2 separate regions of the Homo sapiens genome follow, and region 2 is linked to region 1. Evidence: fine-mapped expression QTL. A gene starts in region 1. The other region holds a variant in brackets. All regions are shown on one strand. Distances are between the middles of the regions. Region 1 holds the start of TCL1A (TCL1 family AKT coactivator A). Region 2 overlaps LOC124903372.

The links. PIP is the estimated chance that this variant, and not a neighbour inherited with it, causes the effect.
Region 2: its variant is the best candidate, but not a certain one, in a credible set for the expression of TCL1A in whole blood (TOPMed, PIP 0.67).

What each region holds. Positions count from the first base shown.
Region 1 is chr14:95,711,229-95,716,601 of GRCh38, reverse strand. It overlaps TCL1A (TCL1 family AKT coactivator A), which reads left to right and starts at 2,477. Exons shown (of 4, transcript NM_021966.3): 1 at 2,477-2,655; 2 at 4,206-4,382; 3 at 4,800-4,853. The coding sequence starts at 2,536. The coding sequence ends at 4,847. LOC107984703 (a long non-coding RNA gene) reads right to left here and starts at 1,119. Exons shown (of 3, transcript NR_148060.1): 1 at 895-1,119. RefSeq lists a silencer at 2,223-2,462 and enhancers at 2,693-2,742, 3,857-4,076, 4,117-4,276, 4,317-4,416.
Region 2 is chr14:95,670,402-95,675,753 of GRCh38, reverse strand. It overlaps LOC124903372, which reads right to left. Exons shown (of 2, transcript XM_047432042.1): 2 at 5,340-5,352. It overlaps TCL6 (T cell leukemia/lymphoma 6), which reads right to left. Exons shown (of 8, transcript NR_028288.2): 6 at 5,177-5,312; 7 at 4,267-4,423; 8 at 2,302-3,783. Among named protein-coding and RNA genes, the nearest start is that of TCL1B, 13 kb to the left of the region's middle. The variant T/C (reference allele first, on the strand shown) is at 2,758.

The sequences.
Region 1 (5,373 bases):
GGAGGCTCCAGATTCTGTCATTCTTACGAGCTCCAGGTGATGCTACTGTAGCTGGTCCAGGGACAACACTTTGAGTCAAGGTCATCCTGATGGCCTTGACTACTCCTCAACCCCTTCTTTGGAACCCAAACAAGAAGAATGGCTCCCATGAATTCCACTGGGGTCCTTGATCTACAGCCACTGTACCAAAAACTGTAGGCATTCCTGAACTAACATCATATATTTTGTCCATCTCTTTTCTTAACTATTCCCTCCTCCCACTAGGCAATGTTATAGGAGGATTGGGGCCTACTGAGTTAGAAACAAGCTTAGAGAGCAGGTATTTTGCCCCATTCATTACAAAACTATGGCACTGAGGCCAAGTTGCAAAGGATTTGTCAAGTTCACAGGTGATCGTGGTAAAGGCAAAACTAGATCTAAATCAGGACATGAACGCATCCATTAAGGATTCTGTCAAAATGATTGCTTCCTGTAGCTTTCTGTGTGAAACATCCATTTGCTTATCCTCAGGGAAATCAGACTAACAAAGACTTGGAAAGGAACATAAAATTCTAAAGCTAGGCTTATGGCCTTTATAACCCTTAGATGGGGCAGATAACATGCCACGGAGGCTCAGAGACAGCTCTGAGACTATGCAATAGCTACTGTTTCCCCTCTTGTGGAATGTTCACTTAAAAAAGCTCAAGGGCTCTATAAGTTGCCCAATGAACTCCACAGACATCCTTAATTCATTTTCATTTATTGGAACCCTCTCTCAAATAATTTTCTAAATCTCACGCAATAATGATGTATATTCTTGCTCAATATTAAGAAGCCCTCATGCAAAACTGAAGAAATAAATTGTTCTTACAAAAGAAGGAAAAAGGAATTATATTCTCAGAACATTCTGCTTACCCAGACACACAGATCTGATTCTTGCTCCATTGTTTGTGGCATTCTGGATCCTAGGGCCATTGATGAGGCTGGGTCAGTGGCCACACTGGCTCCTGGGTACCCCTTCCCTGGCCACAAAAGTCCATCCCAGCAGCACTATTTAAACTGGACTTATTTCTCACTTCACAGCTCTGGCCTGGGCTGAGACCTCCCCAACAGAGCTTATTAGCGAGCTTGTCATCTTGCTCTGTGGCTATCTAGGTCTGGAGTCAAGAGCCATTCACAGGAAAATCAGCATGAAACCTTTAAGTTTGCATATTAAATATTAACACCACTAAGGGCTACAGTGGAAAAGAGGTTTGCTGAGCTCAAGGGCCCTCACTCCACCCCCAACTTCCCTTGGCTTTTCTCTTCTATGTTGTGTTCCTGGTAAATCCCATTATGTCTCGACTACCTTAGGCCCTCTCAGCCCCTTCTTGGGAATTAGGCTCTCTGGATAGGCAAAGAGGCAGATACCCAGCTGCCAGGTGAATCAGATGTCCTCATCAGATCTCTTAATTTCCACTTTGGTGATATTTCAAAGGATCACAAATTATGTTCTTAGTGCCTGGTCAGAGAACTGGGAAAGAGCTGGAAGATGAGACACCAAACTCCATCCCATGGTGATGTTTGAACCAGGCTGGAGCTGGTTTCACATGTTTTTCATTGTGCATGACTTTCTTAATTGCCTTAGTGGGAATGCGTTACTGCAAAATAAAGTGAAATTGTTTTCCTTATTGCTTGTAATTTACAGAGGGGTGGTTTTGATCATATAAACCAGGCACTTTTCAAATCCATTGATCTTAGGGTGGAAGGAGGGATTTCTTTTTAAGTATTCATTTCGAACTATGCTTTCACTAGTAAACTCAAAGCCCAAGGGCAAAAACCCATGATTCTCCATTTTGTAATAGCTATTAGATGTCCACAGCACATCAGACCTGTGGAAAACGCATGCTTTGTGTATGGAAGAGGGAGAGGGAGCGTCAGGAGTTGTCCTTTGCCAAAAAACGTACTCTGACACTCAAAGGCACAGGCTGGTGGAGATCCAGGGAACCCGGGAAAGCCCAGGCCTAACTCAGGCCCGCGCGGGTCTCTTCTGATCCCATAAGATGAGGAGTGGGTCCTGGCTCTGGGCATCCTGGTGTCGACTGTGAGTTCCCAGCAGAGGCCCAGAGTCCCGGTCCGGCAGCCGAGGGAAGCGGGGGGGTCTTCCAGAAGAAGAAAGGGCCAAGGTCACCCCGGTGCCTCTCCAGCAGCAGCAGAGGGCGGCGGTCGGTGTCGCTGCTGGCCGGGGCCTCGAGGAAGGCGCGGGCCAGCTGGGGCCGGGTCTGCGTTCCCAGGAGCTGCCACCGTTCCAGGGAGCAAGTCAGGCCGGGACGTAGCGCCTGCGCGGGACCCTCACTTGCCACCAAGACCCCCACAAACCCCGCCCCATCCTGCCTTACGCCCCGCCCCAAGGTCGTTCTCCCGACCCGGGGTCCCGCCCCAAGGCCGTCCTCCCGCCCCGCCGCTTGGTGGCGGCCGCATGCTGCCCGGATATAAAGGGTCGGCCCCACATCCCAGGGACCAGCGAGCGGCCTTGAGAGGCTCTGGCTCTTGCTTCTTAGGCGGCCCGAGGACGCCATGGCCGAGTGCCCGACACTCGGGGAGGCAGTCACCGACCACCCGGACCGCCTGTGGGCCTGGGAGAAGTTCGTGTATTTGGACGAGAAGCAGCACGCCTGGCTGCCCTTAACCATCGAGGTACAGCCAGCTTTGGAGCGGATGGCGAGGCAGCAGGGGCAGCCCCTGGGAGCTTGGGATGCCCTAGGAAGGGCGAGGACTCAAGGAGCACTCACTATGGGGCAGGGAGGATCCCCACAGATGAAGCCACTTTGAGCCGGGCTCTGGAGGATGAATAGGAGTTCTCCAGGCAGGGAAGAAGGGTGGGAAAACCGCAAAGGAATGTCGGTCAAAGGGGTGGACCCAGTGCCTGTGGAGTGTGACTATAATGTTGACTACAGCAGGCATTTTCTGGGCTTCGGGGTCCTAATCCTTAAAAATGGGTATCTCTAAGTGACTCATCCATATGGCCGATTATCGGAATCATCTCAGGTGGGTCCCAGAAATCTGTATTTTTAAAAAGAACCCTCAACAGTTTAGGGTCAACCAGGCATAGCAAACACTGGCCTAGAGTGTGAAGTATTTTCCACTACCTCTGGGCTTTATTTAGAAAACAAATTTAACAAGTGATGTCGTAGTATAAGCGCCGGTATTGAATCAATATTGACTTTTTTAATGTGTGATGCCTTAAGATGGGTCCTTAATCCATGTTAAGTTTTTGTTAAAGAAATAGATAAGTCTTTTACAAGTATTTGGATTTACTCAATGAAAAAGAGTCAAAAAATGTTCAAACTCTCTCCAAACATACACTGAAGAAAGCATAAAAATTAAAAAATATATTAGAACACGTATGTCCAGTAGCAATCAAAAATTATTGAGTGTTGACTGTGTCTCTACAGATGGGAAACTGAGGCACAAAAATGTACATTTGTCCGAGGTAAGATTGCTAGTAGGTAATGGGGTTGGAATTCTAGGCTCTTAACCACCACAAAATCTGCATTTTTATTGGCATTTCAATTTTTTAAATATGTTTTTACTTTAAAAATCAAGTTAAATACTTACTTTTTTAAAATCAAAATTTGAAGAAATAATTTGAAGATTCAGTGGATTTCTTTTTTTAAATCTCTGAGAAATCTCTTCTTCAACGTGACACCAAAACCACGAACCAGACAGTTTTTCATAAAATCATGATACATGCTCCACAAAAAATAACCCACTAGCAAACTGTGGGACAGATTTTGCCTCACATCATTGAAAAGGCCAGTATTCTTTTTCTCTCTTTCTTTCTTTGTTGTTTTTTTTTTTTCCTGTAGATACAGGGTCTCGCTCTGTGACCCAGGCTGGTCTTAAACTCCTGGCCTCAAGCGATCCTCCTGCCTCTGCCTTCCAAAGCACTGGAATTACAAGTGTGAGCCGCTGCAACCCGCCAGAAAAAAGTGTGCCTTTCATGGCCCTGTCTGGGTGGCTAGACACGTGTGTGTGCTGGTGGTCCTGGCCCAGCCAGAGTCCCTGAGAGGAGCATGCATGGCCTAAGGAAGTGAGCTTCAGGGAACAGTGATGACCATCATTTCACACTCGGACCCCTGCCCAGATGGGTGGATGGCTGGCAGGAGGGATTCCGGTTTTCTGCGCCTGGAGAAGCCCTGGCAAGCGGAACCTGAAAGTATGCCCTGTCCTTTTCTTCTCCTCAGATAAAGGATAGGTTACAGTTACGGGTGCTCTTGCGTCGGGAAGACGTCGTCCTGGGGAGGCCTATGACCCCCACCCAGATAGGCCCAAGCCTGCTGCCTATCATGTGGCAGCTCTACCCTGATGGACGATACCGATCCTCAGACTCCAGTTTCTGGCGCTTAGTGTACCACATCAAGGTGAGTGTCTTTCTCCCAGAGGTCCATCGGGTGATCTTGGGTTTGCCCTCCTCCATGTCTGGCCTTAGTGGTTTATCTTCCCTCCATCCCAGTCCCAAAAGCATTAAAAAATGGGGGAAATGTACAAGTGCAGATTTCTAAAGGACTTTACCAGAGAGAAGATAGATCCTCTGAGGTCTCTAACAGAACCCTACCTCCACTTCCTCCCAGCCACCAGCTAGCCGCAGGAAGACATCTCTGGTGGGCAGTCACAGGCTGAAGGCTGGTGGGAGGAGGGGCAGTCTCCAAGAGCCCCTGAAATCCTCACACCTGGGTTCCTACCTGCTGTTTCCAGCTAGGGGAAGGCGCAGGAGTGAGGAATGGAGGGAGTGGAGGGCTCTGGCCGATCAATGCCTTCTCTCTCTCTCTGCCTCTCAGATTGACGGCGTGGAGGACATGCTTCTCGAGCTGCTGCCAGATGACTGATGTATGGTGAGCTCCACTGGAGCCTGACCCCTCTTAGTCCACAGTGGCTGTATCAGAAAGAAAGACCACCCCTTCTCCATGAAGGCAGTGCTAACCCCTCCCCGACTGCTGCCATCTGAGGGTCCCTAGGGATGGGAGAGGCTTCCTGGAGGCACTCATGTCTCCCTTACCACTTCGGGAGCCAAGGGCTTTGTAGGCAGCCCCCTTTATCGCAGCTGCTCATATCTATAAAGTACTTCACAAGTTTCAGCTGGCACTTTCATTTACCATTGCTTTTTTTTTTTTTTGAGATGAGTCTGGCTCTGTGGCCCAGGCTAGAGTGTAGTGGTGCAATCTCAGCTCACTGCAAGCTCTGCCTCCCGGGTTCACACCATTCTCCTGCCTCAGCCCTCGGAGTAGCTGGGACTACAGGCGCCCGCCACCACACCTGGCTAATTTTTTTTTTTTTTTTTTTTTTTTAGTAGAGACGGGGTTTCACCGTGTTAGCCAGGATGGTCTCGATCTCCTGACCTCATGATCTGCCCGC
Region 2 (5,352 bases), 41 kb after region 1:
GAGAAACAAAGCATCAGTCCGCACAGACGGTCCCCTGGGGTCTCTGTAATTATCATGTCTTCTTTTGCAGCTCTGCTGTGTGACTGGTCTATTTAGGTTAGCAGAGTTGCCGAGGTGAGAGGTGCACTCTGATTGGCCATGGAGGCTGCCCTTGTGTGCCTGGAGCTTTTCCTGACCATGGTACAAAGCTTCCTCATGCAGTGCATGAAGATCCACCTGCATCTTCCCTCTGCTGCCTCTCCCTCTGGCCCTTTGGGCTGTGGTTTTAAATGGTTCTTCATTTAATCCATCAGAATGACCCAGAAGGAAGCAATTGTTTGTAAATGGGTCACTCCCTCAAGTGTGGTGGCAGCCTTCTTATGATGAAGAAATTGGGTCTTTGCAAATAGTAAGTGTCTAACCAAAGACTGGGGTGAGGGGAGAGAGGCCCGCATGTGTTACAAGCTCCTCATGGAAACTAGGCAGTATTCCTATCTTTGTTTTAGAGATGAAGAATCAAGGCTCTGAAAGCAACCATCAGGATGGGCACGGTGGCTCACACCTGTAATCCCAGCACTTTGGGAGGCTGAGGTGGGTGGATCGCTTGAGCCCAGGAGTTTGAGATTGGCCTAGGCAACTTGGCGAAATCCCATCTTTACAAAAGATAAAAAATTAGCTTGATGCCATGGCAGGCGCCCCATGGTCCCAGCTACTCAGGAGGCTGAAGTGGGATGATCTCTTGAGTTCGGGAGGTTGAGGCTGCAGTGAGCCATGATCATGCCACTGCACTCCAGCCTAGGAGACAGAATGAGACCTTGTCTCAAAAAAAAAAAAAAAAAAAAGTGACGGTCACTTAGCCAAGATCACAGAGATAGTTAGTGGAGGAGCTGGAATCTGAACTTCAGCATGTTTGATTCCAAAGTTCAAACTCTCTTCTACTACACCACAGGTACCTGGTGGACGCTGCAAACCCTGTTCACTGATTGATTGACAGAAGTCAGGCTGGTACTCGTGAGCTGGGGACATATGCCCCAGTAACTCAGCAAGCCTCTCAAGCTACATTGCCAAATACTAATCACTCATCTAATCCACACAGGGCATCTGGGGCCCAGCTCCAAGCTACTCCATAACAACAGAGGGCACCATCTTATTTATACTCGGGCCCTGCAGGATCCAACTTGTCTAGGAGATATTCTGGGGATGAAATGGAGGGGACCTCACTGCACAACTCTAATAAATAGAATGCCTGATTTGTAAGGCCATGGTTGCTTGAATATCTGAGGTCCCAGGGATGCCAGCCAACATGCCTGGCTTTCTGGGGTTGGGAGAGGAAGTAACCCACCTCTCCCTCCTCTCTGTAAATACAAATATTATGAGGACCCTCCCATCCTTAGAAACAAGCCTGCTCACCACCATTTTTTCATGATGGTCAATATAGTATGTGGGTTGAAAACACAGATTCTGGAGCCAGATTGCCTGCTTTCAAATCTCAGCTCCAGTATTTACTAGCCACGTGAATTCCAGCAAGTAACTCACCTGTCAAAAGGTATAATGAAAAGACTACAAACTTTGTATAGTTGTAAGGATTAAATGAGCTGAAGTGTGCTGAGTTCTTAGAACATGCCTGGCACACAGTAAGTGCCTTAGGTCTTGTTATTATTGAGTATTGTGCTAGCTCTCCAGCCTTCCCTTCAAAGCTAGACTTCTCAGAGAAGTCTAGAGGCACTAACCCTCAAGCCTGATACCTGGTACAGACCATCTCATAATCTTGTTTCTGCCAACCTGCCTGCAGCCTCCACTGAAACTGCTCTCTTAAAGGGCCCCAGGAGCCTCCTTCCTGAAGGTGGTGGACGATGAGTTCCTTTAGTAGAAGCCATCCCAGTAACTGCCGCCTGCCACACTGCGGCCCTTCCCACCTTCTCAACCCTCTAGTTTTCCTTTGGTTTCCATGCCTCGACACTGGCAATTCTCACCTTTTGACATACCAAAGTTTAAAATGTTAGGTGGAATTAAAATTAACCATCATCCACCTCCTAAAAGCTTTCCCCCTAAACTTCTTTTCCTTTTTTAGACAGGGTCTCACTCTGTCAACCAGGCTGGAGTACAATGGTGCCATCATAGCTCAATGCAGCCTCAACCTCCTGGGCTCAAGCGATCTTCCCACCTCTGCCTCCCAAGTGGCTGTGACTACAGGTGCTTGCCACTGCACAGGGCCCCCGCCAGACTTCTGATAACAGCATGTATTTTGTCCCCACCATTCACCTTTCTCATCAGAGAGATCTGGTAAATGAGGCTTCACTGAACACACAGAGCCCAAGATGTGATCGTTTAACAGCCATCCATCTTTATCCACCAGACTAGATTCCCCAGTGTCCAGAGAAAAGGTTGTTCGCATTTTCATTATGCTATAGGGACCTGCTATAGGAGGCGGGCAGGCATAGGGGCAAGGCAGAGGCAATGAACAGACACTGGCTGGTCTCACTGGCTTATATAGTATGTTAGCTGGACTTTCTGGGCAAAAATCAAAGGTCTCAACTCAGATCTTACACATACATGCAACATACAGCCAAGTCCATAGTCCTGTGACTTGCCAGGTTCATCATCCATCACCCCTTCCCACTGTCTGGAATCATTCATCCCCCGGAAACCTCAGCCCTGAACCAGCCCTGAGTCCAATTCCACCCTGATTTAGAGAAGGGGAGTGGATTAAAGACCTAGCTGACAATTCAGCAACTCCAGCCTGTCTGCTGGCCATACTAGTGTTCGAGGTCCCCACTT[T/C]GAAACTAGGGTTCAAGTCTCCACACCCCAGTCCCTCCATCAAAGATCTGCCTTAATACCAACAGTTCAGGGAGCATTTTCTGCCCCCAACCCCCAACATACACACACCCCTACACACAATGCACGCATACACATACACATACTCACGCATCCTTTGCAAACACCAGAGGCCTGCATCTGATTCAGGGCTGTGTCTCAGGCCTCAAGTCCTGATAACAGTCTCTCTGATGCTGAATGGATAGACATGGACCATGTCATCTTGGGGTTTACAGTAGGCCTGGCACATACCAGGTGCCTGATAAATGTCAGAAGAGCCAAATTCTTGCTGCCTTGCACCTGCTGCATGAAAAGTCATAAGGAACGGCATAAAGAGTACGTCCTTGGGGATGAGACAGCCAAGCTTGGATTTGGGTTCTGGCACTTCGTTGGCTTTGGGATGGTGAACACATTCCTCAACCCCTTTGCACCTCAGTTTCCTCAAGGTTGCGAGGATTAGCAATGACATATGGAAGTGTGTGCTGTAAAAATGCCTGCCTGGGTTTGATCTTGAGGAATGGTGCTATGGAAACAGAATATTATAACTCCCCTCCCCTTTGAGAGGGGAAATAAATCTGAAATATAAATTTTTCTTCAGGAAAAGAATTACTTGTAATGAAAATAAACTATGAAGAAATTACCGTACCTTTGTTTATCCAGTGCAAAAATGCTGCCTCTGCTCTGAAATATTTGTAAGGCCTTTTGGGTTATAAAGTGTGTTAGCTGGACTCTCTGGGCAAAAAATCAAAGGTCTCAACTCTGAGCTTTCTTCTGAGTTTTCACCCTCCCTAAGCTTCCTGATGCTCAAGGTCCAGAAATGCAAGAGATTGCTCAGCTGTGTACTCCATCGTTGCCTCTTTATAAAATATAAATCAGGCTGGGAGTGGTGGCTCACACCTGTAGTCTCAGCACCGTGGGAGGCCAAGGCAGGAGGATCGCTTGAGCTCAGGAGTTTGAGACCAGCCTGTGCAATATAGTGGGATCCCATCTCTACAAAAAAGTAAAACTAAAATATGAATCAGAACCCTATATTCTGTGCCAACTCCTAGCTTTGTGAAGCACATTTTATATTACTGCATGAAGCCACAAAACCTGGCAAGTGTAGGAGACTGCTGAGTGTTACACATTTACTCACTCGAGATATACATGTATAGAATTTGGTTTTGTTTGGGATTTTTAAAAAAAGTATTCTCTCCCTCTGTCCTCCTCCTCCTCTGGTTGTTCCCCAGCACTGTGAATAGCTCCAGGAGCCTTTAGTGTTTGAGGGGGCAGCTTCCTGTGCTGCTTCTCCCTGTTGGAGGGATGTGTAACAAGTTTCTATTGATAAAAGTGCTTTGGACAATTTCAGAAACTAAAATTCATCTCAAAACAAAATAGTAGCGATTGTTACTGCTGTAATTATTGTCAAGTCCTCGTGTATCAGCTTTCCCCCAGACAGTGGTAGTCACCCACTTGCTAAGATACCAAATTTACCTCTTTTTGGGGTCTCCCTCCTTCTGCCTTTTGTCACCTTTCATTTCTTCAATAAATATTTATCGGGCTCCCACTTTGTGCTGGCACAGTCCTGGATGCAGCAGATCCAGAGGCGAATGAGACAGGCACGTGCCTCTCTGCTTCATCCACGTCCTTTCTAGCAGGGTGGCAGATGATAAACAAAACCAACTGATGTTACTCTAGATGGCAATAAAAGTGTTATGGCACTGTAATGGGCTGGAGTGATGGAGGAGGGTACCTATGTCAGACACAGGGCCAAGGAAGACCCCTCGGAAGAGGGTATTTGGGCAGAGAGAGCCAGCTGCATGATCTGGCAGAGGGGGCACAGATTCCCAGGAGACAGAAAGACAGCGTGAAGGTCCAAGAGCAGAACAAGCCTGGAGTGTCTGAGAAACAGAAAGGCCGGTACGAGGAGGGGAAGGGGATATTAGATGAGGTTAGGAGGTAAGGACAGGCAGCAAGTCACACAGGGCTGTAGGCCAAGGTTTCATTCCAAGGGCTGTGAGAAACCGAGAGCGGATTAAAAAGATCCAGCTTGTGGCTCCGCAGAGAAGGCACTGCAGGATTTGCGAGCAGAAGCCAAGACCACTCGGGAGGCTGTTGTGAAAGTCCCAGTAAGAGATGAGGCGGCATGGACTGGAATGGTGGAGAGAGAGGTGAGAAGGCGCTGGAGGAAGGATCTATTTCAGAGCTGATAGGACTCGACAGTGGGTTGAGGTAGGTGTGAAGGAAAGAGAGGAAAGAAAGCAGGACCTCTGCCTCCCCAGTACATGCTTCACCAGCCTTCCTGACCAGCCAAGACCCTGGCCCAGCTCCCACCTCCACCCAAGCACCATCCTGATTTCCCTCCTCACAGGCTACATGTTCCAGAGCCCCCCTCCTCTCTCACCTGCACTCTCACCTCCCCAGCTTCTGTTGTAACTCCAAGAAGGAGAAGGAAGGAAAAAAGGACGTGACTCGAATCTGCAATGGCAGCTGCTCTTGGCCCAGTGTGAATGTGTCTGGGATGTAAATCTGTTGTCTCTCTGGATAAAACAGGAAACAATTACTCATGCAGATGAAAAA